Homo sapiens: one gene and its partner. The protein of the gene in region 1 purifies or fractionates together with the protein of each later gene. This does not show direct contact. Each region holds a gene or a part of one and is shown on either strand. Other genes may lie near its edges.

Region 1 (3,654 bases):
CCAAGACTGATAAGGTTTCTCATGCAGATTCAAATCCAGGAGAAAACTTTCCCAAGGAGCAGCAAAGAGGAATTTTAGATACAAAATATTCCATACCCTTTAGGGTGATGAAAATGTTCTAAAGTTAGATTGTGGCAATGGTTGGACAACTTGGTAAATAAACTAAAAATTCGTTGAATTATATACATGGAAAGTTTTGAGACTTCCAGACTGCTTTTTGTTGCTGTTGTTCTCTTGACCCTAACTAATGGAATTCTAGCTCTGATTCTTGAAAACTCGAGGGCTGGAACTTCTGGGGAGAGAAACCTCAGCCTGATCAGGAGGAAATGCTCCCCTTCCAGGGGGCCAGTGCTGCTGACCAAGGAGACTCAAAAGACACCTGGACTTCAGGTGTCCCAGGATGTTTGACTGCTAAAAATCCATAATTCTGTGAGCTTTCTTTCTTAAAATAGGTAGCTCTGGCCATACATTTTTATTTTATTTTTATTTTTAGATGGAGTCTCACTCTGTCACCCAGGTTGGAGTGCAGTGGTACGATCTCGGCTCACTGCAAGCTCCGCCTCCCAGGTTCAAGCAATTCTCCTGCCTCAGCCTCCCGAGTTGCTGGGACTACAGGCGCCCGCCACCATGCCCAGCTAATTTTTTGTATTTTTAGTAGAGATGGGGTTTCACCGTGTTAGCCAGGCTGCTGTCGATCTCCTGACCTTGTGATCCGCCCGCCTCGGCCTCCCCAAGTGCTGGGATTACAGGCATGAGCCACCGTGCCCGGCCCTGGCCATACATTTTAAATTGACATAACTGTTTTCTGAAATGCATAGGGACCCATGAGTTTTCTTTGCCAAGGCAGGAAAAAATCATGGGTACTTTCTTCTTCTCCCTCATGCACGGAAGAAAAAAAAAAAAAACCCATGAGTCTGGATCAAAGGGTTTGAGAGTTCACTCTCATTTTGGCCGGGCACGGTGGCTCACTCCTGTAATCCTAGCACTTTGCGAGGCCGAGGCGGGTGGATCACTTGAGGTCAGGAGTTCGAGACCAGCCTGGCCAATATGGCGAAACCCCGTCTCTAGTAAAAATACAAAAAAATTAGCCGGGTGTGGTGGCACGTGCCTGTAATCCCAGCTACTCGGGAGGCTGAGGCAGGAGAATCGCTTGAACCCAGGAGGTGGAGGTTGCAGTGAGCCGAGATTGCACCATTGCGCTCCGGCCTGGGCAACAAGAGCAAAACTCCACCTCAAAAAAAAAAACAAAAAATAAAAAATAAAAAGACAGTTCACCCTTATTTGAATGAATGTGCTCATGTTCCCCTCCCTTACAGATGAGGAAACTGAGGCTCAGGTAGGTTAACTCACTATATCAGGTCATACGAGTTGACATGTGGCTTTGACCCAGGATTTGGACTCAGCCCTCCTGACTGCAGTCTTTGCTGTTAACCACTGGGCTGTGCATGACATCACTTAACCACACACACACACAAAACAGAAAACTCCCAATATGCAGAAACAGAGAAATGGAGCGATTTGCCCAAGGTCACACAGCCGGTAAATGGCAAGCCAGGGGGATTTGAACACTTTCTTTTGGCACCCTAACCCTTCACCTGTCCTGCTGCCGAGCCTCCTCCCCAGCCCACCTGGCTGACCCCACCCCCGGGCTCACCTGCGCTCTTGCCCGAAGAGGCGCTCCACCTCTGCACGGCCAGGGCTGTGGGTGCGGCCCCCGCTGCTGCACTGCGCCTGGGGCCCTGGCTGTCTCTGGGCCAGCCTCCTGGGTGGGGGCAGGTCGGCCAGCACAGTGTACTCCTCCCGCTCCAAGTTGTGCCTGGTCTCCCCGGGAGGCGCTGAGCCCCGGGAGCCCCCAGAGCTGCCCGGTGAAGGTGAGGGTGCCAGGAACGCTAGGTCACTGGGTGGGTGGCGGGGTGGGGAGGAGGCTCGGGGTGCATCCCGGTGCCCGATGCACACTTGGGGGATCAGCACTGGGGAGCCATGCAGAGAGTCAGTGGAGGGGGCCAGGCTCTCCATACTAGTTCCAGGGGGATCCTGGAAGAAGAGGGATGGCTCAGGAGCCTGGCGTGGTGGGGATGAGAAGGAGGGTGCATCCCGGTGCCCAATGCACACAGGGGTGGGGATGTGGGGGCACTCGTGCAGAGAGTCCATGGAAGGGACAAGGCTCTCTGTGCTGGCCCTGGGGAGGTCCTGGAATAAGAGGGAAGGCTCTGGGGCCTGGCGTGGTGGGGAGGAGGCCCGGGGTGCATCTCGGTACCCAATACACACAGGTGCAGGGAGCTGAAGGGGCTCGTGTTGGGGGGACTGACACTGATGCTCGGCATCTGATGTGTCTGGGAGGAAGGGGAAGGGGTCAAATTGGGTGTGGCGGGGGGGCGAGGACGCCCGGGGGGCATCTCGGTGTCCAATGCACACAGCAGGTGGTATATAGGGAGGCTCGTGGTGGGGCGGTTCACTCTCAGGGGCGCGGGGCTCTGGGAAGAAGGGGAAGGGGTCGTGCTGCAAATAGCGAGGGGGCGAAGAGGCTCGAGGGGCATCCCGGTGCCCAATGCACACAGCACATGGAGGCTGGGAGGGCTCAGGAGAGGTCAGGGGAGCCCCATAGGCAGCGGGGTACACAGGTGAGGAAGTTCGGGAGGTGCTCTGGTGGCCTGGGTTATGGGAGGAAGAGGTGGCCCGGGATGGCAAGTTGTACTGGGTGGGGCCAAAGGAGGACTGGGGTGGGTCATGCTGGGCTGGCCTGCTGGGAGAGGATGTCTGAGGCCTGTCACCTTGGGTTGGCCGGAGGGCGATGGATGCCCAGGGAACCTCGCTTTGCTTGGAGCGAGATGGGGAAGAGGTTCGGGGACCATCACTCTGAGTTGGCCGGAGGGGAAACGAGGCCCAGGGGATGTCTTTGTTAGTACGATGGGGAGATGAATTCCTGGGATTGTTCCATTGAGTGGAGCGGTGGGGAGATGATGGTCTCAGATTCTCCTTTTGGGTGCAGCATTGAGATGAGGAGGTTCCAGGGTTGTCTCGTTGAAAGGAAAAGGACTGTGTGCGGTCCCGCTGTGTACAAGTGGGTCTGAGGTTATCTCGTTTGGTACAAGAGGTTTTAGGGTTGTCTTGTTGGGTAGAAGATGATCTGGGGATGTTCTGTTGAATACAAGTTCTGGGGTTGTCCTGTTGGGTGGCTCTGATGGGAGAGGAGGCTCTGAGATTGTCCCGCTGGGCACAGGATGTTCTGGGGTTGTCTCGTGTGGCTCTATTGGGAGAGGAGGTCCTGGGATTGTCCTGTCGGGTACAGGATGTTCTGAGGTTCTCTTGTTGGATGGTTCTGTTAGGAGAGGAGGCTCTGGGATTGTCCCGCTGGGCACAGGATGTTCTGGGGTTGTCTCGCTGGATGGTTCTGTTGCGAGAGGAGGCTCTGGGATTGTCCCGTCGGGCACAGGATGTTCTGGGGTTCTCTTGTTGGGTGGTTCTGTTAGGAGAGGAGGCTCTGGGATCGTCCCGTTGGGCACAGGATGTTCTGGGGTTCTCTTGTTGGATGGTTCTGCTGGGAGAGGAGGCTCTGGGATTGTCCCGTAGGGCACAGGATGTTCTGGGGTTCTCTTGTTGGATGGTTCTGTTAGGAGAGGAGGCTCTGGGATCGTCCCGTCGGGCACAGGATGT
Region 2 (3,654 bases), on another chromosome or scaffold:
GTACCCTGGCTCTACCCAGGCTGGGTGGGTCCCAAGGATTTGGTAGGGGTTGGGAAGAGATTAGAAGTGAATGGTTGTTTTCTCCACTTATTTGAGTGTAGGGGGTACTTGGGGATATATCAATATTTGATTATCAGACACTTTTCAGTGGGTAGAGGGATTTGCTAGTAATGACTGTGATAAGTTAGTGTTTTCTGTGATATCAAAAGCAACACAACTTCCACTTGTACCTTTTTTTAAATGTCAAAATGAATCCCAATAGTAAAATACTGACAAATTAGAGGCTGACAAGCTTCTACTGCATGAGAAATTCTTGATTTTCAAAATTTGGGTGGTAGTTTTATCTCTTACTACAGATAATGACGGAGAAAGGAGATCACATCAGTTCTTCCTAAAACCTCAGCTTTCTCTGATTGTGGAACTAACTGTTGATGTTCTAAAGCAGCTCTTCTCAAACCTCACTGTACACAGGTATTACTTGGGCATCCTGTTTCAATGTAGATTCTGAATTTCTTACAAGTAGTACCCTGGAGCTGCCTGGCATGGACTACACTTTGAATCGTAAGCTCTAAACCAGCACAGTCCAACAGAACCTCCTTCAATGGTGGAAATGTTCTGTGTCTGCACGGCCCGTACAGCAGCTACTGGGCACTTGAAATGTGACCATGTGTGACTAAAAACAGAATTTTAAATTATTTAATAATTTAACTGCCTTATTATTTAATCTTAATTTAAATTTAAGTAGCCATATTGTAATCAATTGTGTCTCTTTCTCGTCCCATCTGATACAGACTGTTTGATACATCTTTGCAACTTCCGCAACATAATCACAGGGTCTTTTCAAGAATGGGTATCCAAGAAATGTAAGTTGAGTGATTAGGGTTTAAGTGGCAAAATAGAACTTCTCGTATGTGAACTAGAAAGGGGGAAAATCAGACAGAAATCTTTGTGCCTCTCTCAGGAAAGCAAAGGAGGGTACTGTGGAGAGGGGAGAAGGGACGGGGGCTGTTTATGTGTCAGGAAAGAAGCTGGGATTGGCTGGCAACAATGGAGAAGTGACAGATAAGCAGTCAGCTAGCCACAACAATCCCTGGCCAACCAATCCATGGACAGCTCTTTCAGCTCTAGTTTCCCTATCTCTGAAAGGAGAAGGTGAGATTCACTATCTCATCATTAGTGTCCATTCCATCCCATTATCTAACGCTACAACTGTCACAGTAAGACAAGGCTCTTCCATGGAGAAGGATCCGCAAGGCTACTGCTCCCATCTAAGCTGTCGTAAGTCACAAGAGTTCGACAAAAGTTTTAAACAAGGCTGGGTTTCTAATTCTTTGAATATAAGGAAAAATTGACAATGATGAAAAGGAGATTCCAAGAAGATACTATTTTACATGGGCCAAACATTCTATTTATCAAAGTGTCCCTACCTGTAAGCGTTTGGTGGCTTGTCCAAGAGATCTTTCCACAGCTTTGATGCCATTTTCCAACCTCAGACTCTGCTGGCCTTGAATGTCAATCTCCCCTTTGACCTTACCGATCTTTCCTTTAACCTCTTCCTCATTGACCTGTGCCTCTTGAACTTCCCGTTGCAATTTTTCTGCTTCAAGACCACTTTCCATAGTCCGGATCTGTGCCAAATAGTCCTTTAATTTGTTTTCACATTCTGTTATTTTCTGTCTTATTTCTTGAAGTTGATCCTTCAGCTGTTTTTCATTTTCCTGTTCAATCTGTAATTCATTTTCCCAGAATTCTTCCTCCTCAATTTCTACATCGTTTCTTTTGATCTTTTGCTCTAGACGGACAATTTCCTCTTCAAGGTTGGAATTATACTTTTGCTCCCAAAATCTTATTTCTATTTCATTAGATTCCAGCTGTTTCTCAATGGATTGAAGCTTCTCTGTCTGCAGACGGATTAGCTTCTTCAACTCATCTGCTGTTGTTTTGCAGTTATTCAGCACCTTTTGCTTAAACTCAGTTTCTTTACCTTTTCCAAAAATGTCCATTAATCCTTTGGCACCTCCTGTAAATGTCAGTGATTTCCTTTTCGGTTCCCTCCTTTTGATTGATTTGTCAATCTGAGGCCTCAGTTTAGCTAAGGGGGGCAGACTCTGCCTGTATAAAGTTCTTTCAGGAATTCGAGCCACACTGTCTGAAGTGGGTCGCTCACTGAGAGACGGCCCAGTTCGTCGTAGAATGAGCTGCACATCACTAGCATACTGCCCCCATTTGTTTAAGGATATGATAGGATTTTCATGAGGTGCTAAGTGTCTTTCAGTATCTCTCCATTTCTCTATAAGGGTGTACCTTCCAGTTCGACCTATGTAAAAAAGGTAAGAATAACTTGTCAAAATGGGATATGTAATAGTTAAAAAATGGAGTAAGAATGCCATTTGATGATTGTGTATTTTCGATTAGCATCAGAGGGTCAAGTTTGAGTCTAGTTCAGGTTCCTTTAAAACCTTTACTTGAAGATACCAAACCCCTCACGACATGTAACAACATAAAATCAGAAGATGTGTATTGCACATACTCTTTAGGCTTGCTTAGAAATTCAACTTTATACTTTAAACCTTGGTGGGACTCTTATACTCTTGCCAAATACCTGGCTGCCTAGAACTTCTCATTTGGGGCAAGACTGAACAAAGTTTATTTTCTAGCTGAAACAAAGGACAACAGAATCGCCATGTGAAACATGAGGGGCTGGTCCAGGAACTAGGTGGAACTTCAAAACTCAAATACATTTCCACTGTGGAAATCCCTCGGCTTTTTTCCACATCAGAACTTGGGAGGGCTGGAGGCCCCACTTCTCCTCCTGAAAGGAGACATGGGGACCAGTGGAGAACTGTGACTCAGCCACAGGAGGTGCCCAGGTCTCCTCTCCATCTCCACCTGAGTGCTCCACCAACCCATCGCTCACACAGCTGACATCTTCCTGGACACCCATGACAAACAAAAAACCAGCTCAATGAAAAAAACTCTTCAAAACAAATTCATATAAAAAGAGGGGCCTGAAGAGAAGACTTGTTCAGTTTTGGTAATATGATAGTATCAGAGATTCTTCTTCTAAAAAAAAAAAAAAAACTCAAAGCAAAATATTGTTAAAAACAAACCAGCAGGCTGGGTGCAGTGGCTCACACCTGTAATCCCAGTATTTTGGGAGGCAAAGGTGGGCAGACTTCTTGAGCCCAGGAGTTTGAGACCAGCCTGGGCAACATGGCAGAACCCTGTCTCTACAAATAAAATATGAAAAAGTTAGCCGGGAATGGTGCTGTGCACCGTAGTCCTAGCTACTTGAGAGGCTGAAATAGGAGAATCGCCTGATCCTGGGAGATCAAGGCTGCAGTGAGCTGTATTGTGTCACTGCACTCCAGCCTGGGTGACAGAGTAAGACTCTGTCTCAAAAAAAAAACAAAACAAACAAACACCAGAATACAATCACATATACATTGAAAAATATACTGAATCTAATCATTATGAAAGTAAGATAAAGTTTCAGAAGAATATGATTGTAATGCCATAAGCTTGAACATGCTTTTTAAATATTTTCATTTGAGTGGGTCAGATAGATTATTTAAATTTTGTGAAAAGTGTACATAAATAATTACAAAGAAAAAAAACCAACGCTGCCATCCAGCAATTATACTTGTATAAACA

The links. Proteins that work in one complex are often made in the same cells at the same time.
Region 2: the proteins of TRIOBP (region 1) and RASSF8 purify together in Homo sapiens (co-immunoprecipitation; one large-scale study listed by IntAct). This does not show direct contact.

What each region holds. Positions count from the first base shown.
Region 1 is NC_000022.11:37,724,504-37,728,157, reverse strand, and holds part of TRIOBP (TRIO and F-actin-binding protein), read right to left. Parts: coding exon 1,655-3,654; intron 1-1,654.
Region 2 is NC_000012.12:26,063,161-26,066,814, reverse strand, and holds part of RASSF8 (ras association domain-containing protein 8), read right to left. Parts: intron 2,318-3,654; coding exon 1,428-2,317; intron 1-1,427.